7 linked regions of the Homo sapiens genome follow. The protein of the gene in region 2 purifies or fractionates together with the protein of the main gene of each other region. This does not show direct contact. Each region holds a gene or a part of one and is shown on either strand. Other genes may lie near its edges.

Region 1 (3,500 bases), on a different chromosome or scaffold from region 2:
TCCTCCAAGGATGGTACATAACTAGTGCCAATTCAGATGCAGAGGGGAGAAGTTAATTCATTCCATACAATGGATGTCTTGGGCTTAATTCTCTCCTGGGAACCCAGGTTAGTTGGACTGCATATATGGCAAAGTCTTAAAAGGATTTTGCTTTGACTGGCTTGTGATGTTTATCTAAAAAACTTTTTTTTTTTTTTTTTTTTTTTTTTTTTTTTTTTTTTTAGATTACAGGTCCACCAGGTTGTGGAAAAACTCAGTTTTGTATAATGATGAGCATTTTGGCTACATTACCCACCAACATGGGAGGATTAGAAGGAGCTGTGGTGTACATTGACACAGAGTCTGCATTTAGTGCTGAAAGGTATGAGATTTTATTTTCTATTATAATGTTTTACTTTTGTAACTTATATACAGCATGAAACATTTACACATAGGTTAACATTTACCACCCCTCCCCCTTGCCTTTTTTTTTTTTTTGAGATGGAGTCTTGCTCTGTTGCCGGGCTGGAGTGCAGTGGCACGATCTGGGCTCATGGCAATCTCCACCTCTTGGGTTCAAGCGATTCTCCTGCCTCAGCCTCCCGAGTAGCTGAGACTACAGGTATGCACCACCACACCTGGCTAATTATTCTATTTTTAGTAGAGACAGGGTTTCACCATGTTGGCCAAGCTGGTATTGAACTTCTGGCCTCAAGTGATCTGCCCACCTTGGCCTCCCAAAGTGCTGGGATTATAGGCGTGAGCCACTGTGCCTGGCTTTTTTTTTTTTTTTTTTTTTGAGATGGAGTCTCTCTCTGTCGCCCAGGTTGGAGTTCAGTGGCAGGATCTCAGCTCACTGCAACCTCCGCCTCCCGGGTTCAAGCGATTCTCCTGTCTCAGCCTCCTGAGTAGCTGGGATTACAGGCGCCCTACCACCAGGCCTAGCTAATTTTTGTATTTTTAGTAGAGACAGTGTTTCACCTTATTGGCCAGACTGCTCTTGAACTCCTGACCTTGTGATCCGCCTGCCTTGGCCTCCCAAAGTGCCGGGATTACAGGTGTGAGCCACTGCGCCTGGCCTAAATTGGTCTTTTTATAAATGTATCCCAGTAGTAAATGAATAAGGAATGATAGAATATCACCAAATTACAAACTCTGACAATCTAATGGATCTAGGCATTTAACATCACAAAAAGATGACGAGTCACTGGGGTACTTTCTGATGGAAGAACAATCAAATTTGAATGTGATCAAGGCTTCAGATCCAGCCACCAATTTACAACCTAGCTAGAGAAGAGAGGAACACATCAAACTGCTCTAGAAAATGCAATTAGCAGAATCCAAACTGTGGGAAATAACAGAACAAACAACTTGGTTTCTGTAACAAATAAATTGTAAGATTAAAAAATAGTTGGAAGGGGAACCTTTGGATTAAAACAGATTTAAAAGCCTTATTGATCAATTGCTGTGTGATTAACTTATTTGGATCTTGACTTAAATAAATGGTTAAAAAAAAGAACAGAAGAATAAACATTGAGACTACTGGAAATTTGAACATGAAAATATATTTGAGATTAAAGCTGGTAAAGACTGGTTCACTCAAATTGTCCAAGTACTCTTTAAAATGCCAATGACTAGCCTTCGACTAACAAGCCAAGTAGGTATTAAATAGCCAGTTATGTCATAAATAGCTAATGTTCAAATAGCTCTTACAAAGGTCCTGGGGAATTTGGGTAAAGAATTCAAAGATTAAGATTATTTTTATAACAGCAGTTCAGTTCACTGTAATGGATTTCTGCTTTCTTTGCACCACATACAAAACAGAGTTTAGGATGTCTTCTTAAGGAGGAAACTGTTGCATGTTATTTTATTACCAGTATTACAGTTCAGAGCAGTGTAAAAACCTTATCAATGAATTGGGTGATATCAGCATACATACAGAAGACTAGCAGGTGACTTGTCTGCATTTTCCAAATGAATTTGTGGAGAGTCTTATGTTTTTTGTCTTTGCATAGAGCCTTAATTATTTACTTTTTGAATCCCCCATATTTACTTATTTCTCCTTCATATCTTTTTCTGCCAATGTGCATGTTGGTATTTACATCAGAGGCAGGTTGGAAAATGAAGAGGTAATATTTTAGCTCCTTTGTTGGAATTACGTTGCATAGTTCACAAGGAGCTCTTATGAAGGTCATTTGAGAATAGGGGTTGAACTTTATATTGTATTTGGTTTTTTATTCCATTCTCCACAAGGCTTAAAATGAGTGATCATCTGGCTCACACATGGAATGGATTTTGAGGTCTGGTGATAGGGCCAAGTAGAATAAAAAATATGAATGCTCTCCGATATATATGCCAGATTTGGCATTCTTATACTACCTTCTAGTTTGTCATGGTGGGTCATAGAATGGAACTGGCCCTGTAGTGTCTGATCACATTTCATTCATTCTGTTACAGGACAGCTTAACCCCTATTTGGAATTATCAGGAAAGGTTGGCCAATCGGTTAGGAAAGCTTACTGCTGCAGATAACTGAGTATCCAAAGAACAGTAGCTTAAACAAAAAGAGGTTTATTTCTCTCATATAACAAGACCTGAGTAGGTGGTTGCTGGCACTGGGTCACTCAGGTCTCAGTGATGACAGAGAGACCTAGGGCATGCACATTTTCAGACATCGGATTCATTCTGTGCTCAAGTCAGTGTGAAGAAAAAGGGCCAGCTATATCTTTTATCAGGAAAGTGTACTTTTATTCATAATATCTGCCTCCTCCCATCTGTGGATTTCCTTTTTGTTGCCTGTAGTCCTCTTGTAGATTTCTCACTGAGTCACCTCTATATGTAAAAAGAGGCTGGGAAAGTGAGGGGAGAAGATCGTCGTAACAATCATGATGAGTTGTCTGGTTAATATTGCTGCCTGAATAAAACTGGGGCTCTCATAGCGAGGAAGAAGTGGAAATGGATATTGGATTGGTAATTAACAGTTTCTGTCCCAGCCCCAGCTGTTTCTGGACTTAGAGAAGAGGTAAGGCAGGGAAATATGAGACGCAAAAAGGACTATGTTGTAGCTCTGTATGTGTTCACATTGTCTCCACTTTGTGCTTGCAAAGCTAGCCGGCTAACCAGCACAAATGAGAAAGTGTTTAAAGGATTAATATGATGAAGGATTAAAGGATTCACATATATAGAATTTAGGGTACGTGAGAAAAAGTTGAAAATAATTTCTTCCTATAAATATCTAGATATCTTTTTACTAAGAAGGAGAGAGAAATCAAAGGAGGAATAAATACAAACTACTTAGGTTTAAAATGTATTAAAGAGGGAGGAGCCAAGATGGCCGAATAGGAACAGCTCTGGTCTACAGCTCCCAGCATGAGCGACGCAGAAGATGGGTGATTTCTGCATTTCCATCTGAGGTACCGGGTTCATCTCACTAGGGAGTGCCAAACAGTGGGCGCAGGTCAGTGGGTGCCCGCACCACATGCAAGCCGAAGCAGGGCGAGGCATTGCCTCACTCGGGAAGCG
Region 2 (3,500 bases):
GTGCAGTGGCATGATCATAGCTCACTATAACCTTGAACTTCTGGGCTCAAATGATCCTCCCACCTCAGCCTCCTGAGTAGCTGGGACTATAGGCACATGCTACCACACCCAGCTAATTAAAAAAATATATATATTTTTTGTAGAGACAGGGTCTCGCTATGTTGCCCAGGCTGGTCTCAAACTCCTGGCCTCAAGTAATATTCCTATCTCAGCCTCCCAAAGCACTGGGATTACAGGTGTGAACCACCACACCTGGCCTAAAGCCCAGGTTCTTAATGACTATACCCCTGCTGCCTCTCATTAGGAAACCTATGAGAGCAAAAGCAGTAAATCATTGGCCTTATATTTCAACATAAAAAAAAATCTAGAATAGCCAAAATGGCCATCAGTCATAAACTTGATTCAGATATCCAGCAGAATAAAAAACAAAATTACCAAATACCTCATAGTATAATAATTTTCAGGTTCAGAAAGATCAATGACTCTCATGAAACCCAGAACATCTTAACATTTAACAAACAGAACCCTTATTCTATCCTGTATCTGGCAAAAGAAACAAGACTACTTTAAGAGAAGGCCTACCATGATACCCAGGCTGCATTAGGTATATCCCCTGGCTTCCTTCATTGTGTTATGTTTATGTGTTTCCTTGTTTGCATCCCCAGTTTTTTGATGATAGGAACTGAGCCTGATTCATCCCCCAGTTCTTAGATCAGGTACTGACACATCTTAGGCACTAGAAAAAAAAATTTACTGAATAAATTTTTAGAGTTCGGAAAAAGGGCCAGGCGTAGTGGCTCATACCCATTTATCCCATGACTCTGAGAGGCCGAGGCGGGCAGGCAGACTGCTTGAGCTCAGGAGTTCAAGACCAGTCGAGCCAACATGATAAAACCCTGTCTCTACAAAAAAAAAAAAAAAAAAAAAATCAAATAACAAAAATTAGCTGGGCATCGTGGTGCACAGCTGTAGTCCCAGCTACTTGGGTGGCTGAGGCAGGAGGATCGCTTGAGCCCAGAAGGTCAAGGCTGCGGTGAGAGCTGTAATCATGCCACTGGACTCCACAGCCTGGGCAACAGAGTGACACCCTGTCTCAAAAAAAAAAAAAAAAAAAGTTTGGATAAAAGTTGGATGGGCTTTAGACAACTGAGCCAAGTCTAGAATAACTTTCTCACTTGTTGTTACTGCGGAAGCAGGCAGGGCACCTGAGATACAAGCCAAGCTGGCAGCAGCTACATTCTTGATGCTATCTGCCCAAGATAGATCTTTGATATTTCTGTGAGAACAGGAATCCTGCATCACAGTAGTGAACAGGAAGTGGTAGAAACTTCACCAACACAAACATCATTCTGACAAGCCATATTCTTGCATAAGACCATTTGTCCTAGGAAAACGCCTAGGATATATTTACCAAGTCCTAAATTTCCACTTGATATCTGATTCAGTTAACAGATATATTCTGCCTGCTAGGGCAGTATGCCATATGCTATATGAAAGTAGAAAAGAAATACAGAATAGCTTCTTCCCTTATGATGCAGGAAGGGCATTAAGACAGACATTAATGAAAATTAACAATATGAGCCATATCCCTCAAGGGAGTATTGGAAAACTTAAGGGTATACAGTGCAATATAATAGAGACTTAAAGGTCTCTTGTAATTTTGCTGAAAGCGTCATCTGGGTGGTTTGGAGAACTTAAGAGAAAATGTTCTGAAGAAGAGACTGGAGATGGAGTTAGAAGAATAGGAAGGAAGATAGGATGATGAAGACATTTATCCAAAGACTGATCTCCTTGTGGGAAGGGACAGTGTTTTATTCATCTCTGAATCTTCACTCATTAGCACAAAATAAGTGTTTAATAAATACTTTATCAAATGATTAACTGAATTAATGAATAAATTCATTCCTTTGCTTAAATGGAATTCTGTCACTGATTTTTATAAAAACTATTTACCCATTGAGTTTATTTACCCAAAATCCAAATAAATTTGAGGGAATGGAACCTATAGCCATCTTCCATTTCTCCACCATTTTATCTGAAACACAGAAAGTAAATCTAAAACCATGAAGCATCAGAGGTGGATGATGCCTTAGAAACCACCTAGTCTAACCTCTTACCTCAGAGGCAGAAACAGCTAGACAGCAGATGATCAATAATTACTAAGATTCCAGGAGGTACTATAGTGTATTGGGAAAACAATGGGTTTCAGACAACTGAGCCAAATCTAAAATATTTTTAAATGTTCAAAAAATTCTGCTGTTTATATAATGTTTCCTCATATGCTATTACAATAAGGCGTGGCAACTGAAATTCTATTCCTTGAACTTGGTGCTTGACCTAAAAAAGAAGAAAAGCTACAATCTAACATTTAGAATAAAGGCAACAGTGGCTGGGCACTGTGGCTCACGCCACAACCCCAACACTTTGGGAGGCTAAAGTGGGAGGATTACTTGAGGCCAGGAATTTGATTACTTGATTACTTGAGGCCAGGCTAAAGCAGGAGGATTACTTGAAGCCAGCCTGGGCAACATAGCAAGACCTCGTTTCTACAAAAAATTTAAAAATTAGCCAGGCTTGGTGGTGTGTACCTGTAGTCTTAGCAACTTGGGAGGCTGAGGTGGGAGGATTGCTTGAACCTAGGAGTTCAAGGTTGCAGTGAGCTAGGATCATGCCACTGCACTCCAGCCTGGGTGACAGAGTGAGGCCTTGTCTCCTAAATAAATAAATAAGCAAGCAAACAAACAAACAAATTAATTAAATAAAGGCGACAAAGATTTGTTGGTTACCTCCATTCAATAGCATTCTCCAGAGACTTGAAGGTTTTAGGACGACCCCGTAAGAAATTCTGCATGCTATTAAGTGCATCCATAGCTGTACCTGGATGTTAAACAAAAACTGTAACCACATATTTAACTTATTCTGAGCATTTACACTTACTGAGTCAACTACTATATATCTGCTCTTGATGACAGCAGAATTTAGTGATGCTCGCAGAGAAATAAAGATGGCCCTCAATAATTTTTGCCTCTGGGGTATTCACTTCTTTATGTCATGCCCTCACACTGAAGAGGATGACTTGTATTCACAAGCAGCAGTGTGACTTCTGAAGCTGGGTCAGAAAAGACATGGCAGCTTCTTTTTATATGATTAAATACAATTATGGGACATACATAGGATTGAAATATTATGCAGCCATAAAAAGATGTTAATGAAGAGTTTTTGATGACATGGAAAAATGGTTATCTTGTATAAACTTAAAAAAGATATAAAGACAGAGGGACATATTTCAAGATGAATGAAATCAACAATAAACTAAGACAAGGTAATAATCTACCAAGGATGTCTCTTATAAGTGAAATCCTGATTTGGTCAGTGCTAAGAAAACTCACCTTCTACAACATCAATCATGCACAGACCCAAGAGGCTTGGTACCAGGTTGGATGATGCTGTGTGGACTGCAATAGCACCACCCATGCTATGTCCAATCAGCATAATTGGAG
Region 3 (3,500 bases), on a different chromosome or scaffold from region 2:
TTAAACGCTATATGCTGCCGCTTTATGTATTGCCATTAAAGAGAGACTAAAAATACAAAGCATGGCATGAAGTCCATTTTCAGGGCTTCTATTCTGCAGAGATGATTATACCTATCCTGGTCATGCTATGGTTTCTATGACCTTTCTAATTTGAGGTGGTAGCATGGAAACTAAAGATTTAATTTTGTTTTTAGTTTACTTTTAGAAATCTACTTCCTGCATGCAGTTCTTCAGTATTGGTTCATTCTTTCTTAGTCAAGTTTCTGCTCATGTTGCTTTATTGCAAATGTGTTTTTCAAGGGAACTGATGTTCCTCAGACCATCTTCTTAACTGTATAACACCCCATCCTCCAGGAAACTTTTCTTTTGACTTTACCAAAGGGGTGCCTTATGTATTCCTGATTTTGTGCTTCATTTTCTGTCAGTTACTCTTTGATTGCCTTCCTTGGATTTTCGTTGGCCCGTATAGTAGGTGAACCCCAGTGTTTCAGCCCTTCCTCTTCTCTTCTCATTGTAGGCAGCCTTGATGACTCACTTTTGGCCCTTCACTCTCTTGAACTATAGCTGTGTGTGTCCAGCTCACTGCTAAACACCTACTTAAATGCCCCTTATCTTTTGAACTCAAAATATCTAAATTTCAGCCCATCATTTTTACACCTAGACCAGCCATACCACCCCCTCTTCCAAATTTCCGTCACAGGGGTCCTCATGCAGAATGAGAGTCACTTAACTTTCAGTCATCTTCCTTTTTTGACCAGCACTGTCATTCAAAGTTCTTCCTTCATAATGGTGTCATGACTCCTCCTTTTCTTGTACCCACATCATCTTAGTTTAGGCCTTTTCTATAACATGCCTGAAATAGTGCATTGCTACTGGATCTTTCTATCATTCCAGGTTTCTTCTCCCTCCGCTTGCCTTTGCAGAGTGCTGCCTGACAACCTATCCAGAATATTACTTTGCACACATTAACCTTTTCCTCAATTTCAGGGTACAGGTGTGATGGTGACAAACTAACAGAGACCCTCCATAACTTCATAGTGCCTTCAAGATAATATCCACACCCTTTGCATGCCACACAAACTTCTCTACAACCTGGACGGACTTTATCCACCCTATCTTTCCAGTGTCCCCAATTTACCTATATCAGGATGCCTCTACTAGAGACAGACCAGAATACTTATCTCCCCCTTCATAACTTACCCATTTTTCCACATTTATATATTTTTCATACAATTTATCTGTCTAGAATATAGCTCTATACTCATTTTTACTGTTCTTAGCCATTTTGCAAAGCCCAGCTTCCAGTTAGCCTTTTCCAAAAGTCTTGTAAGACCACCTAGCCCTAAATAATCACTCTTGCCTATAAGGGCCTATAGCTGGGGTGACTGTGTAATTTATCATCCAAACCAGGACATTTTTGAAAGTGAAAGGGTGTGTCATCATTAATAAACAGGACATTGGGAATATACCTGTGCTACCCTGGGTAAACTGGGACAGATATTATTCCATCCATAGCTCATATGTTTGGCCTGCACGTCCCTTCAGCATTTAGCATTTAGTACTCTGCATTGGTGTTAATGCCCTTCTGGATGTGCTGGGACTCCTCAATAAGTCTGTCCTCCAGACTGTTACATTATGCTCATACTTCCACATATCCCCAGAACCTAACATTTTGCCATATATTTTAGTAGATACTAAATTATGTTTGTTAATTAGGATGCTGATGGAACCCATTATTTAGCAGTTTTTCCCTTACATTTTTAGGAGGTGGTTTTGCCAGATAAATATAATGTTTAATTTTTTTTCTAATTTAGCTTATTGACATGTGTGTGCAGAACTGTGGTCCAAGTTTCCAGTCTCTGATTGTGAAGAAGGAATTTGTTAAAGAGAATTTAGTTAAGCTACTGAATCCCAGATACAACTTGCCATTAGACATTCAGAATAGAATCTTGAATTTCATTAAGGTAAGTCTGTTGTATACCTCATGGGATGGTAAATTTCTAAGATTAGGGATTTAATAGCTTACCTCCTGATTGTTTCACTTATCTTTTATATATCTAGGATTGAGCTAGAAAAGCATTTTTGCTATTTTAGTTTCTGTGTAATAATAATTTTTTGGCATTGGATGGTGCCCTTTTTCTGAAGAATTTGTAGTCATTTCCCTGCTTTCCTCTCAGTTTCTATTTTATCTGTGTCAAATAGGAAAGACAGTGATCTGTGTGTTCACTTTGCAGGTAGGGAAACTTCCAGCTAACTGACTAGTTCAAGGTTACTTGGAAAAAGAGCTACTGATGTTATTTTAGAATCTATTAATTTTGGATTCAGAGCAGCAAAAAACAATTGATAGTATATATCCTAGGGTTTCTTCAAGATTTTGAGGCATGGAAATCTGATTTAAAAGATTTTATATTTTCCTAGCCTTTGAAAATGAGCATTTTGCCCATGGCATTCAAAAGTAGCTTTCTCTTTCTGAGTGGGGTACATAATTATTGATCTCTTATTTTCTATCAGGAGCTTAAGAATTGTGTTTTCGGCTGGGTGCGGTGGCTCACGCCTGTAATCCCAGCACTTTGGGAGGCCGAGGTGGGCAGATCACAAGGTCAGGAGTTCGAGAGCAGCCTGGCCAACATAGTGAAACCCCGTCTCTACTAAAAAATACAAAAAGTAAGCCAGGCGTGGTGGCGGGCGCCTGTAATCCCAGCTACTCAGGAGGCTGAGGCAGGAGAATCGCTTGAACCCAGGAGGCGGAGATTGCAATGAGCAGAGATTGTGCCATTGCACTCCAGCCCGGGCAATAGTGTGAGACTCTGTCTCAAAAAAAAAAAAAAAAAAAAGAATTGTGTTTTGGTTTTGTTGCTGTTTTAACTCTGGAACTTTTTTCATCTCTTGAATTCAGACTTGGTCACAGGGCTTCCCAGGAGGTGTGGATGTAAGCGAAGTCAAAGAAGTATACCTCGACCTGGTTAAGAAAGGCGTTCAGTTTCCTCCCTCAGAAGCAGAGGCTGAAACAGCAAGACAAGAGGTAGGAGGCCTTTCTTTGACCCATGGAGACTATAGTAGTGTATCACTTGGGTCTTTTCTCATTACAGGAGACAACCCTAAATCCACCCAGCTTAAGCAAAAAGATGAAGTTATTAGAAGGATATTGCAATATCTCATAGAATAACCGAGACTTGGGATTTTGCTACTTAAAGTGTGTTTTGCTACTAAAAGTATGAAAGTTTGTTTGGCATGTTCCACCCTAGACTAATCAGAACCTCCCTTTTTACAAGATTTCCAGGTGTTTTCTCTGCACATTAATGTTGAGAAGCACTGGCCTAGAGCCTTGAGCTTTCACCTCTCCACCCAAGGTTGGAGATGTGGCATTGACCCAAGGAGGGTCATTGATGGAGAAGGAGATGCCTTGTCAGCTGTGGCTTAAAAGGACTTGACATGAATTGAGCTACCATTTGTTATTAACAACCCAAAGAGAAGGCATCAATAATCTCACATGGCAGTTT
Region 4 (3,500 bases), on a different chromosome or scaffold from region 2:
TTGTCCCCATCTGTGTCTCTCCTCTCAGACTGTGAACTCCAAGGGAAGGAGCTATGTTATTCTGCATTGCTTCTTTCCTACCTCTGTGTACTTGTGCAGTTGGTTCATAGTAAATGCTTCTGGGAAGACACACTATGGGCTCAGTCTCCCTTTCAGGAATGATTATAATTGTGGGACCCACAGGGAAGGTGGTTGGAAGCTGGTAACTTGACATTTAGAGCAGCAAGAAACAGGATTTTCTAAGTCCTGAAAATCCTGGGAGAGGAAGGAAAATTTAATGGGGAGTTCCCACCTTTTGCCTAACTCCTACTTCTTTAGTTCTTAGATGGGATGTCGTTTCCTTAAAGCAGCCTTCTTTGACCACCCACCCCTATCCCCAGGACCTCGCGAGGGCTTCTGTTAGTTGCTGTTTTGGCACTCAGTACCTGGTAGCGCTGGTAGCACCTAACCACAACTGTCATGAAATAATTCCTTGTGAATTCATTGTTTTATCGGCTGTCTCTTGTGTTAGCACGAGAGCTCCATGAGGCTCTCATTCACTCCTGAAGGGCCTGACACAGCAGAAGCACCCAGCATTTGAATGTATTAGTGAGTGAATGAGTGAACGAGTGAATGAACAAATGCACCAATTTCACATTAGAGCTGAAAAGGACCTTAGGGTCTAACGTTATCAGTTCATAGATGGGAAAATGAAGCCTGAACAGGTTAAGGAGTATGCTGAGACCAACTGCTATGATTTATCCACTGCCTTTCAAACAAATATGCCTAAGACAATGGGTCTATTACAAGCAATCTGGGAAAGGAGGGTGTTGAGTTCACCTTGGGCTGTTTGGTGAAACGCTGCTCAGGGTTCACAGGTATGAGATGGCAGCAGGAATTATCCATGATTTTGTAGAAATGTACCCACGTCTGGTATGGCAGGGGTATGGGGAAAAGTTGGAGCTAGGATGTGAGGCTGTGGTCTTCAAAAGCTGTTTGGCACAGTCCTTCCCTTGCCCTTTTTCTTTTGAGATGGAATCTTGCTCTGTCGCCCAGGCTGGAGTGCAGTGGCGCGATCTTGGCTCACTGCAAGTTCCATCTCCTGGATTCACGCCATTCTCCTGCCTCAGCCTCCCGAGTAGCTGGGACTACAGGCTCCCGCCACCACGCCTGGCTAATTTTTTGTATTTTTAGTAGAGATGGGGTTTCACCATGTTAGCCAGGATGGTCTCGATCTCCTGACCTCGTGATCCACCCGCCTCGGCCTCCCAAAGTGCTGGGATTACAGATGTGAGCCACCGCGCCCGGCCCCCTTGCCCTTTTCTTGTCCGGAATTTTGGGCTCTTCTAGCCAGCTTTGCTCTGTCAGGCATTTGCCAGAGCCTTTCTAATTGATCTAATAGTTATAGCAGCTGACATTTATTTTATAGAGCAGTTACTTTGTGTTAGTTTCCTAGGGCAGCCATAATAAACTACTACAAATAAGCCCGGCATGCTGGCTCACACCTGTAATCCTAATGCTTTGGGAAGCTGAGGTGGGAGAATTGCTTGAGGGCAGGAGTTTGACACCAGCCTGGGCAACATACAGAGACCCTGTCTCTACAAAAAAATAAAAAATAAAAAATTAGCTGGATGTGGGGGCATGTGCCCCTGTACTTCCAGCCACACGGGAGGCTGAGGCGGAGGATCGCTTGAGTCCAGGAGTTCAAGGCTGCAGTGGGCCATGATCGTACCACTGCACTCCAGCCTGGGTGACAGAACGAGACCTTGTCTCAAGAAAACAAAACAAAACAAATTATTACAAATTGGGTGGCTTAAAACAATAGAAATAGGCTGGGTGCGGTGGCTCACACCTGTAATCCCAGCACTTTGGGAGGCTGAGGCAGGTGGATCACCTGAGGTCAGGAGTTTGAGAGCAGCGTGGCCAACATGGTAAAACACTGTCTCTACTAAAAATACAAAAATTGGGCTGGGCATGGTGGCTCACACCTGTAATCCCAGCACTTTGGGAGGCCGAGGCGGGTGGATCACCTGAGGTCAGGAGTTCAAGACCAGCCTGACCAACATAGTGAAACCCTGTCTCTACTAAAAATACAAAAATTAGCCAGGCGTGGTGGCACATGCCTGTAATCCCAGCTACTAGGGAGGCTGAGGCAGGAGAATCGCTTGAACCCAAGAGCCGGAGGATGCAGTGAGCCGATATTGCACCATTGCAACCCAGACTAGGCAACAAGAGCGAAACTCCGTCTCAAAAAAAAAAAAAAATACAAAAATTAGCCGGGCGTAGTGGTGGCGCACCTGTAATCCCAGCTACTGGGGAGGCTGAGGCTGGAGAATTGCTTGAACCCAGGAGGCGGAGGTTGCAGTGAGAGGAGATCGTGCCATTGCACTCCAGCCTCGGTGACAAGAGGGAAACTCTGTCTCAAAAAACAAAAAACAAACAAAAAAAGAAATACATTCTCTCTCAGCTCTGGAGGCCAAAAGTTGTAAAATTAGTGTCGGCAGGGCCATGTCCTTCTGAGGTTCTAAGGAAGAATCTGTTCCACATCTCTCTCCTAGATTCTGGTGGCTTTTGACAATCTTTGGCATTCCTTGTAGATGCATCACTTTAATCTCTGCCTCTGTCTTCACACAGCATTCTCCTCCATGTGTCTCTGTCTCTGTCCAAATTTTCCTCTTCTAAGGACACCAGTCATATTGGACTTAGGTTTCACCCCAATCCAGTATGATCTCATTTTAACTTGATTACATCTGCAAAGACCCTGTTTCCAAGTAAGGTCACATTCACAGATTCTAGGTGGACATGAATTTGGTGAGGGGAGGGGGTAGGGGACTGGATACTGTGCAACACTATGTACCAGGCACTGTGCTAAGTACTTTGCATACATTGTCTCATTTAACCTTCACAATACTCCCCTGAGATTCCTTTATTATTATTATTCCCATTTCACAGATGAAACTGAGGCTTAGAAATGTTAACTGGGCACAGTGGCTCACGCCTGTAATCCCAGCACTTTGGGAGGCCGAGGAGGGCAGACCACCTGAGGTCAGGAGTTCGAGACTAGCCTGGCCAACATGGTGAAACGCTGTCTCTACTAAAAATACAAAAATTAGCCTGGCATGGTCCAGCTACTTGGGAGACTGAGGCAGGAGAATTGCTTGAACCTGGGAGGTGGAGGTTGCAGTGAGCTGAGATTGTGCCACTGCACTCCAGCTTGGGGGAGAGAGCAAGACTCTTGTCTCAAAAGGAAATGTTAAGTAGCTTTTATTCAGCCAGTAAGGCAGTAAGGCAGAGCTGGAATTCAACCCAGGTCTGTGTGACTCTGGAGTCTCTTGTGGTCTTGAATGAAGTGATACTGCTGGCTCTAAGATTCTAGAAGTGAATCCTAGAATGGAAAGGAGCCTTGGGAGATCAGGTGAGACCCCACTGACCTGCCTCTGCAGGTAAGGGTCTTTCTTGATCTGTCCTTGGAAAAAAAAATTCAATGTCCTCACGCCTGTAATCCCAGCATTTTGGGAGGC
Region 5 (3,500 bases), on a different chromosome or scaffold from region 2:
AAATTTAAAAAAAAAAGCCTATCTTATGAACAGAAAACCAACATAAGAAATACAGCACTGGCATAGCCTATTCCATTCACCATATTATAAAATGTAAGAGGTACTGAGAACGTGCATTAGAAAAAAATATATAAATTACCTCTACAGGGATCTCATTGCCAGGTGTTGCAGGTATACCAGTCATGAAGTCACTAGTAATAAAGGTTCGAATAACCACAGATCTCTGGCATGAAGGCTGCTTTTGAAGTGGGTCCCGATCAAAATGTAATGGTGTCAAAATCACCGGCATCTGGCTGATTTTCCCAGCATACCCTAGAGAAAGGTATATGTAGAACCAATCACCACACCATAGAAAAGCACTCTAACTCAGTTCAATTAAATCCTCCCAGGCAATATCTGAAATCACATATACACACACAGCGTAGTTAAGACTGTCATCATGCATTGATTTCAGCTACTCGCAGAGCATTTTAAATGGACTTAATCACAAATGCAAAAAACAGAATTTGATCACATCAGTGATGTTTCACTGATGTGCTGTAAACAGAAACAGTCCAGTCTCATTATTCTCTATTATAATTTGCAGTATAGTTATATTCTACACTGCAAACAACGAATTAGCGAATACTGAACCATTTCTCCCAGGGGAAATGGAGGGTTAGGTTCCTGCAAGCCTCTGGTTGTAATATTTTCATCAACTGATTAATATATAACCTTGTTTTATGTGTTTCTGATTTAAGACACTGTATTTAATATTTATTATAGATTCATTAACACTGAACTGACAATCAGTAGCTCTTTAACTCATGCCTGAATGAAGTTTATCTAACACACAGATTTTCTCTGTAAGGTACATCACAGCATTCCTGTGCTTAGGAACCCAGACAGCACTTCAACACTATAGTTGAGATCCATTTTAAACAGCAAAATCACCAACAAAAGACATAAAAATGCAAAAGATATAGCATCAAGGAGACCATGAAAAAGACTTGTTCACATTATGAGAGCTGAAAACAAGAAGGCATAGCGTCACCTTGTTCAAACTCAGCTGGGAACATCTAAGTCTGGAAATTCAAATTTTCTGCTGCTCTGTGCATGTCCACAAATGGCCACAAAGGGGAATATATTTTATTTAGAAGCAACATTATAGGCCAGGTGCAGTGGCTCACGCCTGTAATCCCAACACTCTGGGAGGCCAAGGCTGGCCTGACCTGACTCCTGACCTGATCACATGAGGTTAGGAGTTCGAGATCAGCTGGCCAAAATGGCAAAACCCTATCTCTACTAAAAATACAAAAAACTAGCCAGGTGTGGTGGCGGGTGCCTGTAATCCCAGCTACTCGGGAGGCTGAGGCAGGAGAATCACTTGTAACAGGAGGCAGAGGCTGAAGTGAACCAAGATTGTGCCACTGCACTCCAGCCTGGGCGACAGAGCAAGACAGACTCCGTCTCAAGAAAAAAAAGCAACATCATAGAACATTCAAAGATTTAAATAATAAAAACAAAAGCATCTAAAAAGCAAAAGCCACATCCTCCTACTCTTAATATCAAGCTTCCAAAAACTAGTTTCAGAGGGTAGTAATCAAAAACATGAGCAACTTACCAGACTCCCTGAGAATGTTATGGGCCTCAAAATCAGCTTGGCGTAAAGTACTGAGCACCCCTGTTGTCAAGAAAGTGGGAGTAACATCTGTAGGAGGTTCTTTAACTGGTGGGCCAAATATATAAACAACTCTGGAAACAAAGAGGTAAAAATAATACAGCAATTACATTTCAAATGTAGAAATTACATTTTAGTATGAGAAGCAAGGCACTTAGAACAGTAACATTCTTTCCATTTCCCACTTAGTTTCAGGCCCTTCTCCTGCCCACTTCAACTCCCCAGATGGATAGGACAAGATATAAGATTATAGGAAGGTCTGTGTTCTACGTGTTTTCCTCAAAGTGTGTTCTCTGGAATATTCTGTATCTCAGAATGTGCAAAGATATAAGTGATTATTACAACTCTCTTTTCACTTAATGTACTGGGTCGAAGAGTATCCCCAAAACTTCATGCCCACCCAGAATCTCTGGGGAGAAAAAGGGTCTTTGCAAATGTAATCAAGTTAAAATGAAGTAATACTGGATTAGGATGGGCTCTAATCCAATGACTGGTATCCTTCCAAGTGCTGGGAAATTTGGATACACAGATACCCACAGGGGAATGAGGGTCATGTGAACACAAAGACAGACTGGACTATGCTGCCACCACTCGATAGTAGGAAGAAGCAAGGAAGGATCCTCCCCTAGAGTCTTCAGAGAGAATATGACCCTGCCAACACTGAATTCAGACTTCTGGCCTCCTAAACTGTGAGAGAATAAATGTCTGTTGTTTTAAGCCTCCTAGTTTGTGGTGATTTGTTATGGGTAGTCCTAGGAAACAAATACACAATTAAAATTTAAAAATAGGTGTCTTTATGACAAGACTTCAGAAACTATTAATATACTATGCTAACATGCACTGGAAATCTCCAAGAGGAAACTACAGTGAATTTCCCAAAATTAGTAAACTCATCTTTTTTTCTCTACTTGAGAAACAATCATTCTAGAGAGATTCTCATTTGCACTTCATTAAAAAGGCCATTGAAATAGGACTTAGTATCCTACTACTTCCTTCCAAAAAAATGATTCATTAGTGTTTTATATAAATGTCTGTTTGAAAGACATGAAGATACACCACAAATATCTTGAGTTAATGAGAGTACAGTTTGGAACATAACTTGAGGAAATTAGAATCAGACAATTTTAACAACTTGAAGTGTAGCTGGCCACTGGTTTGAAGGGATCTGTTTCACAATCTTCACCCAGAAAACAAGAGGGAATCAGGGTAGAGATATGAGTGCCACTTAGCTAGTTCTCCCTATTCACTTTTCGTTAGTCCTGTTTTTAGCAAAGAAAATAAATCTCCCCGGAAACTATCATGGTAAAGTTTAATGTTTTTTCTTCTTTTCTTAATATGTACTTAGGTAAAATACACAATAGAAAACCATATTAGCACAAAACCACCGGTATCACCAACTACTTTATTGTCTCCTTCCAAACATACTACAACAGAAGCAAGGTTTTTGTCCCACGTATAGACAGTAAGTTATAATTTTTCTAAACAATACAGTTCCTAAAGTTCATAAAAGATCTTTACAGGAGAAAGTTAAGAGAATGCCATGAACCTGCTCTTTTCACCTTCTCATTTCTTACAAACAAAAGTAATCACTAGAGTGTACTGGGACAGGTATTTACCCACACTATATATGACAGTAAAACTGGAACAGTCCCTCCCTGTACAAAGATTCCCTTATCCAAATTAGGAAAAAAACCGGCAAACAGGGAAGAATATTTTTAAACTCCAATTCATCAAAAAGACCCCAGCAAATAAATCTAAAGTTCACCAAGATTCTTTTTTTTTTCTTTTTCCTTTTTTTGAGATGAAGTCTCGCTCTGTCGCCCAGGCTTGAGTGCAGTGG
Region 6 (3,500 bases), on a different chromosome or scaffold from region 2:
TGTCGAACTCCTGACCTCAAGTGATCTGCCTTGCCTGCCTCGGCCTCCCAAAGTGCTGGGATTACAGGCATGAGCCACTGCGCCCAGCCAAGACTCTGTCTAAAAAAAAAAAAAAAAAAAAAAAGATTAAAAAAACATTTTATAATTCTTACCTGGATTCTGGGGAAAAAAAGGAAAAAAAAACCACTTTGTATTTGATAATTTGATCATTTAAAAGAGTTTTGAAATGTTTGTGATCAAAGACTTTCAAGTGACCTTACTACTTGAAAAGATTATGAACCACTGAATCAACAGTGGATGATTTCAGAGCGCTTTCTTGGCTCTGACCTTCTAAGATTCCTTCCTTTTCTGTAAGTGTTCTCCATTCATGATGTCTATCAGTTAACATTATTTGGGTCTGCCTATGAAATGTCTCTTATTTGTCTCCTCTTTAATTCAAGCCCTCATTTTTTCCCTATTGCTAGGTCTGTAGTGTTAGTCTGACTTCTCCTTACCTCTGAAATTCCTTTTCTAGCAAATTCCTTTTCTAGCAAATTCCTTCCCACCTTGTAACCCCAGTGAGCATACATCTCGAGTCAGCTGGTGCTAATCTTTTCCGTGGTTTCCCATTGCCTGTAGTGAGTTTTTAGAATGCCATTTGGGCCCTTTACAGTATATTTCCATCCTACTTTTCCAACCTCACTTTTTTCCTCCACTCCACTTCTTTTCATCTGCTCCAGCTACCATGTGGCACCCTTATTTTTCCTTAAGCCTGACTTGCACTTTCCTAACTTTACTCATACCAGCCTTTCTAACTGAAATACTTTGCTGTCTGTCCATATTCTGTCCATCCTTTTAGGCCCACTAAAGAGCCATCTCCTCCAAAATATTTTTCTCAATTATTCCAGTTGCAAATGACTGCTCCTTAGATCTGCTAAAGGACATTATTGTTATTTCTGTTAATGATAATTGACACTATTACCTATGTTATAGTTCTCTGTGTGTCTATTTCCAGTTTGTAAATTCTTTGAAGGCAGTGACCGCATTTTGTTCATGTCTGCATCCCTCTTAGGGCCCAGCACATAATGCAGTATACGCCCAATTAAATTTGAGACTCACAGAGTTTAGAGTGGCCACCTTGTCCAACCTCTCCTATTAGAGATGAAGAGACTTCCAGAGGTCATACCGCAAGTTGACAGCAGAGATGCAGTAGGAACTGAAGTGAGGCAGAATTTGAGGATTCAGGTCCATGGGGAAGATAGTTTGCTGAATGAAGGAGCAGTGCTTTAGGGAACAATTTTAATGGAATTTAAAGACAGAATAATTCAGAACTGGATACATAGTAGATACCAACTGCACCTTGTGGGAATAATTCTCTGGATAGTATCTGGCAGTCTTCAGATACTTTGCTGTTATCCTGGCTAAACCACATAAGTTGTTGTGTGTTGGTTCACAATCTGATCTTGCAGATGTAAGTTAGAATCTTGACAGTTTTTTTTGAGAGAGTTTAAGTCCTAAGATTACTGCTTTAGAACATGAAAATCAAACAAGACTAATTTTAAGCATTAACTCTTTGGCTCGTTGGCAAAGAAGGGTCACATAGGATCTGAAATTTGTGCACTGTGCAGTTTAACGTACCACTACTTTTTTTTAAACAGCTTTCAAAGGTATAATTTATATACAATGAACTGCACTTAATAAAACGTACAAGTTGGCAAGTTTTGACATATGTATATACCCATGAAACCATCGCCACAATTAAGATAGTGAATGTATCTTTCACTCCCAGAGGCTCCCTCATACCCCTTGCTAATCTCTCCCTGTTTCAACCAGTCAACCACTGATCTGCTTTCTCTCACTGTAGATGAACTTGCCCTTTATTTTGGCCAGACATGGGGGGAAGGGATCATACAAATGGAGTCATACATTATGTATTCTTTTGTTTGGTTTCCTTCACATAGCATAGTTATTTTGAGATTTATCTATGTGGCATGAATAAATAGTTCATTCCTTTTTATTGTTGAGTGTAAGTCCATTGTATGAATGTACTACAGTTTTTTATCCATTCCCCTGTTGGTGAACATTTGAGATTTGAATTGTTTTCTGTTTGGAGATATTACAAATGACAGTGCCGTGAGCATTCATGTACAAGTCTTTACATAAAAATATTCTTTCTTTTCTCTTTGAGTAAATAGCTAGGAATGAAATGGCTAGATGGTATGGTAGGTGTATATTTAACTTTTTAAGCAACTGGCAAACTGTTTTCCAAAGTGGTTATAGTATTTTACATTTCTACCAGCAGTGTATGAGAGTAGATCATAGACCTAAATATAAAACCTAAAACTACAAAACTTCTAGAAGAAAACAGGAAAAAAAAATGTATGACTTTGAGTTAAACAGACTTCTTTAATATGACACCAAAAGCATGATCTATACAAGAATAAATTGAGCTGGGTGTGGTGGCTCATGCCTGTGGTCCCAGCTATTCAGGAGGCTGAGGTGGAGGCTACAGTGACCTGTGATTGCTCCACTACACCAGCCTGGGTGACAGAGAGAGCTTGTCTAAAAAAAAGAACAAAGTGATACAAAGTAGAATTAATCAAAATTAAACATTCGGTTCTTCAGGCTAGGTGGTGGCTAACGCCTGTAATCCCAGCACTTTGGAAGGCTGAGGTGGGCGGATCATGAGGTCAGGAGTTTCAGACCAGCCTGACCAACATGGTGAAACCCTGTCTCTACTAAAAATACAAAAATTGGCTGGGCGCGGTGGCTAACGCCTGTAATCCCAGCATTTTGGGAGGCCAAGGTGGGCAGATCACGAGGTCAGGAGATAGAGACCATCCTGGCTAACACAGTGAAACCCCATCTCTACTAAAAATACCAAAAATTAGCCAGGCATAGTGGCAGGCACCTGTAGTCCCAGCTACTCGGGAGGCTGAGGCAGGAGAATCGCTTGAACCTGGGAGGCAGAGGTTGCAGTGAGCCAAGATCGCACCACTGCACTCTAGCCTGGGCAACAGAGTGAGACTCAGTCTCAAAAAAAAAAAAAAAAATCGGTTCTTCGAAGGTTACATACAGTTAAGAGAATGAAAAGAAAAGTCACAAATGGAGAAAAATCTTTGTGAAGAATATATCTGATAAAAGACTTCTTTTCAGAATATGTAAGGAGCTTTCAAAACTAAATAGCAAGAAAATAAATAACCCAATTAAAACATGGGCCAAAGATTTGAACAAGAAGTACAGATGGGGCCAGGCATGGTGGCTCACACCTGTAATCCCAGCACTTTGGGAGGCCAAGGCAGGTGGATCACCTGAGGTCAGGAATTCGAGGCCAGCCTGGCCAACCTGGTGAAACCCCATCTCTACTAAAAATACAAAAATTAGCTGGGCTTGGTGGCAGACACCTGTGATCCCAGCTACTCGGGAGGCTGAGGCAGGAGAATCACTTGAACCCAGGAGGTGGAGGTTGCAGTGAGCCAAGATCACGCCATCGCACTCCAGCCTGGGCAACAGAGCGAGAC
Region 7 (3,500 bases), on a different chromosome or scaffold from region 2:
AAATTCCTGAATAGGGTGAGTCCTTCAAACATTCTCCAAATAGGGTGGACCTTCTTTTAAGTAAAAATCCTCTTTATTTGCTACTTAAACTTTATCGTGAGTCTAACGCGGATGTTGTTTCTAAAGTCAAATATATTTACTAATTTTTGGATTTTGGAGGAATTGTTTTGAGACATGAAGTTTTGTTATTAAATTTCAGTAAACCTCATAGCCTGATGTGCTTCTCCACTTAAGACTGCCAGATGTCATTTCGGACAGCAGGTGTCATTTTCCCTGTCCAGGTTGGCATGAAAGCAGTGCAATAGTGCATTTAAAATAGTTTTTATCATACGAATATCTTTTTTTTTTTTTTTGAGACAGTCTTGCTCTGTAGCCCAGGCTGGAATGCAGTGGCGTGATCTCAGCTCACTGCAAGCTCGCCTCCTGGGTTCATGCCATTCTTCTGCCTCAGCCTCCCGAGTAGCTGGGACTACAGGCACCCGCCACCATGCCCAGCTAATTTTTTGTATTTTTAGTAGAGACGGGGTTTCACTGTGTTAGCCAGGATGGTCTCAATCTCCTGACCTCGTGATCCGCCCGCCTCAGCCTCCCAAAGTGCTGGGATTACAGGTGTGAGCCACCGCTCCCGGCCAATCATACGAATATCTTTTGAATGCCTAGTTCTATAAAGCACCATGGTGGATATTGCAGGAAGTCAAAGGTATTTTTGTTCAGATTTTTAAAAATAAGAGTTCCTGCACTCAGGCAACTTAAAATAATTTAAATGACAGATATAACTGTCTATAGGTAACTGTAATACAGGGTATTGAGGCGCTGACTGTAGATTGACAGCCAGCATGAGTTACTAAGTAAGGACAGTGTTATGAAAGACTCTCGGGTGTAACACACAGCAGCATACTGAGGATCCAACTCAGTGTCTTAAGAAGATGACTATACGCTAGTTTTATGGTTTAAATATTGCTTTGATCCTTTACTTGATTTAGAATTAAGTTACCACATTTTTGGAAAAAAGGTTTACTATTAGATGATACTTCAGTCTTAAAAATGTTTTCATCTATAAAAATGATTCATTCAATATAATTTGGAAAATGAAAAAGACAGTGAAAAAGATATCCTCATCAACCCACCTACCCCAGAATACTCATTGTTATTTATAATGTAATATGTTTCATTCATCTTTTTTTAACCTGGAGTTTTGATTTTCTTTTGCGGTTATAATTATATTGAATATACAGGTTTTTTACTGCTTTTTCATTTGCCATTCTAACAGACATTTTACGGTGTTTCTGGAAACTAAGATTCTGAATGATAGTATAATAGGCTGTCTATTAAAGCCATCACAGTTAACTTTTTTTTTTTTTTTTTTTTGAGACAGTCTCGCTTCGTTGCCCAAGCTGGAGTGCAGTGGCGCAATTTTGGCTCGCTGCAACCTCTGCCTCCCAGATTCTAGGCGATTCTCCCACCTCAGCCTCCTGAGTAGCTGGGATTACAGGAGCCCACCACTCCTTGGCCTCCCAAAGTGCTGAGATTACACGTGTGAGCCACTGTGTCCGTGCCTTTTTTGCTATTTTGAACGGGACATTTTTATATATGGCATTTTTTGGTATTTAGGATTATTTTAATGGCATGATTTCTAGATGTAGAGGTACCAAGTCAGTGGCTAGGAATGCTTTTTAAAAACCCCATAGATATATACTTATATATTTCTAAATTGCTTCCCAGAAAGAGTATATTAATTGATACTCCCTTCAGTAATGAGTGGCTTAATTTTTTAATTGCACCCACTAGGCAGAAAATGCATACTTATTTCAATTTGAATTTTTTTTTTTTTTACTATAAATAGGGTTGAATGCTTTTCCCCTTATGTTTATGAACTTACCTTCTTCCTCTCTGCATTCTGTTCATGCCTTTTTGTCATTTATTTTACTGTATTGATTGGCCTGCAAATAACAGCTTATTTGATGCCTCAGCGTGTCTCTGCATAGGCAAACCAGAGCTGGAGTGATGACGCAAAGGAACCGCCAGACACACTTGGCTCTGCATTTTCTCCTTCACCATCCTCAGGCTGTGCTTATTACTCCCTAATTACAAAATGGGTGATAAGTCTCCAGGCCTCAGGAATGTGTTGCAGGAAGAAAGGGGTGAAGGCCTGTGCTAGCCACATCTGTTCCTGTTCTTCAGGATAGGGAAGAGCTTTCTCAGAAGCCCCCCTCAGGAGAACTCTGTGGCCAGTAGTGTCGCTAACTGTAGCTGGCAAATCAGAGGTTGAATAGCGTTTGAGTCTGCTACAGTTTCTGGAGGTTCTTAATATTTATCCCACTTTTGAAAAGGTATCAAATTTGTCATCTTTGTGATAGTATTTCCTGGACTCTTTGCTATTTTGGTAAGTTTTAATTGTCACATGGTTATGTTTGCTATCATTTCCTTTGTGATTTTTTTAACTACTTTTAAACTAAAGAAACTCTTCACCTGTGGCTATTGCAGTCTGATTCTCTGTGAAGCATAATCTGAGATGGAGATTTGTGTGTATTGTGATGAGTGAATGTAGCATGTATGATACTAGTTTTTTTGTAGTCGAGGTGGTTTTTGCAGTCCAGCATATACTCAGTGTTGAAAAAAAGGAATATTCTTGGTTGTATTAGTCCCAATTAGGTCAAGTTTATTGTTACTCATACAGTCTTTACTATCGCCTGTTTTCTGAGTAGTAGTTGTCTAAGATAGATGTGTCCTAATCATAGTGGACTGAATTTCTTCTCCTTCAGTCGGGTTTTGTTTTACACACCTCAAAACAACATTATAATGATTCAAAGATTCCTGGCTGCTTTATCTCCTTGGAGTGTTTGTTTTTTGTTTTTGAGACAGAGTCTCATTCTGTTGCCCAGATTGGCGTGCAGTGGCATCATCTCTGCTCACTGCGACCTCTGACTCCTGGGTTCAAGCTATTCTCCTGCCTCAGCCTCCCGAGTAGCTGGGACTACAGGTGCGTGCCACCACACCCAGCTAATTTTTGTATTTTTAATAGAGACAGGGTTTCACCATGTTGGTCAGGCTGGTCTCGAACTCCTGACCTCAAGTAATCCACCTGCCTTGGCCTCCCAAAATGCTTGGATTACAGGCGTGAGCCACTGTGCCCAGCCTATGTTTTCTTAATTAATGTAAAATATCTTCACGTGTCTCAATAGTTTCTACCTTGAGTTTGATTTTATGTGCTACTGATATTAACATTATATCTTTTTTGTTTTCTTTTATTTCAAGGCGGAGTTTTGCTCTTGTTGCCCAGGCTGGAGTGCAATGGTGTGATCTTGGCTCACTGTAACCTCCACCTCCCAGGATCAAGCCATTCTCCTGCCTCAGCCTCCCAAGTAGCTGGGATTACAGGCGTACACCACCACGCCTGGCTAATTTTTTGTATTTTTAGTAGAGACAGAGTTTCACCATGTTGTCCAGGCTGGTCTCGAACTCCTGACCTCAAGTGATCCACCTGCCTTGGCCTCCCAAAG

What was found.
Region 1: the proteins of PPME1 (region 2) and RAD51B purify together in Homo sapiens (co-immunoprecipitation; one large-scale study listed by IntAct). This does not show direct contact.
Region 3: the proteins of PPME1 (region 2) and TOM1L1 fractionate together in Homo sapiens (co-fractionation; one large-scale study listed by BioGRID). This does not show direct contact.
Region 4: the proteins of PPME1 (region 2) and PPP2R5D purify together in Homo sapiens (affinity purification with mass spectrometry; 3 studies listed by BioGRID and IntAct, with this or other methods). This does not show direct contact.
Region 5: the proteins of PPME1 (region 2) and GMPS fractionate together in Homo sapiens (co-fractionation; one large-scale study listed by BioGRID). This does not show direct contact.
Region 6: the proteins of PPME1 (region 2) and PSMD5 fractionate together in Homo sapiens (co-fractionation; one large-scale study listed by BioGRID). This does not show direct contact.
Region 7: the proteins of PPME1 (region 2) and TDRD1 purify together in Homo sapiens (affinity purification with mass spectrometry, with the first as the bait; one study listed by BioGRID). This does not show direct contact.

What each region holds. Positions count from the first base shown.
Region 1 is NC_000014.9:67,864,779-67,868,278, forward strand, and holds part of RAD51B (DNA repair protein RAD51 homolog 2), read left to right. Parts: intron 1-9; exon of another isoform or gene 10-107; intron 108-224; coding exon 225-361; intron 362-3,500. UniProt on the Homo sapiens protein: Involved in the homologous recombination repair (HRR) pathway of double-stranded DNA breaks arising during DNA replication or induced by DNA-damaging agents. May promote the assembly of presynaptic RAD51 nucleoprotein filaments.
Region 2 is NC_000011.10:74,230,289-74,233,788, reverse strand, and holds part of PPME1 (protein phosphatase methylesterase 1), read right to left. Parts: coding exon 3,390-3,500; intron 2,878-3,389; coding exon 2,787-2,877; intron 1-2,786. UniProt on the Homo sapiens protein: Demethylates proteins that have been reversibly carboxymethylated. Demethylates PPP2CB (in vitro) and PPP2CA. Binding to PPP2CA displaces the manganese ion and inactivates the enzyme.
Region 3 is NC_000017.11:54,910,852-54,914,351, forward strand, and holds part of TOM1L1 (TOM1-like protein 1), read left to right. Parts: intron 1-1,814; coding exon 1,815-1,964; intron 1,965-2,896; coding exon 2,897-3,022; intron 3,023-3,500. UniProt on the Homo sapiens protein: Probable adapter protein involved in signaling pathways. Interacts with the SH2 and SH3 domains of various signaling proteins when it is phosphorylated. May promote FYN activation, possibly by disrupting intramolecular SH3-dependent interactions.
Region 4 is NC_000006.12:42,991,070-42,994,569, forward strand, and holds part of PPP2R5D (serine/threonine-protein phosphatase 2A 56 kDa regulatory subunit delta isoform), read left to right. Parts: intron 1-3,500. UniProt on the Homo sapiens protein: The B regulatory subunit might modulate substrate selectivity and catalytic activity, and might also direct the localization of the catalytic enzyme to a particular subcellular compartment.
Region 5 is NC_000003.12:155,933,150-155,936,649, reverse strand, and holds part of GMPS (GMP synthase [glutamine-hydrolyzing]), read right to left. Parts: intron 1,735-3,500; coding exon 1,604-1,734; intron 313-1,603; coding exon 140-312; intron 1-139. UniProt on the Homo sapiens protein: Catalyzes the conversion of xanthine monophosphate (XMP) to GMP in the presence of glutamine and ATP through an adenyl-XMP intermediate.
Region 6 is NC_000009.12:120,836,423-120,839,922, reverse strand, and holds part of PSMD5 (26S proteasome non-ATPase regulatory subunit 5), read left to right. Parts: intron 1-3,500. UniProt on the Homo sapiens protein: Acts as a chaperone during the assembly of the 26S proteasome, specifically of the base subcomplex of the PA700/19S regulatory complex (RC).
Region 7 is NC_000010.11:114,182,353-114,185,852, forward strand, and holds part of TDRD1 (tudor domain-containing protein 1), read left to right. Parts: exon of another isoform or gene 1-15; intron 16-3,500. UniProt on the Homo sapiens protein: Plays a central role during spermatogenesis by participating in the repression transposable elements and preventing their mobilization, which is essential for the germline integrity.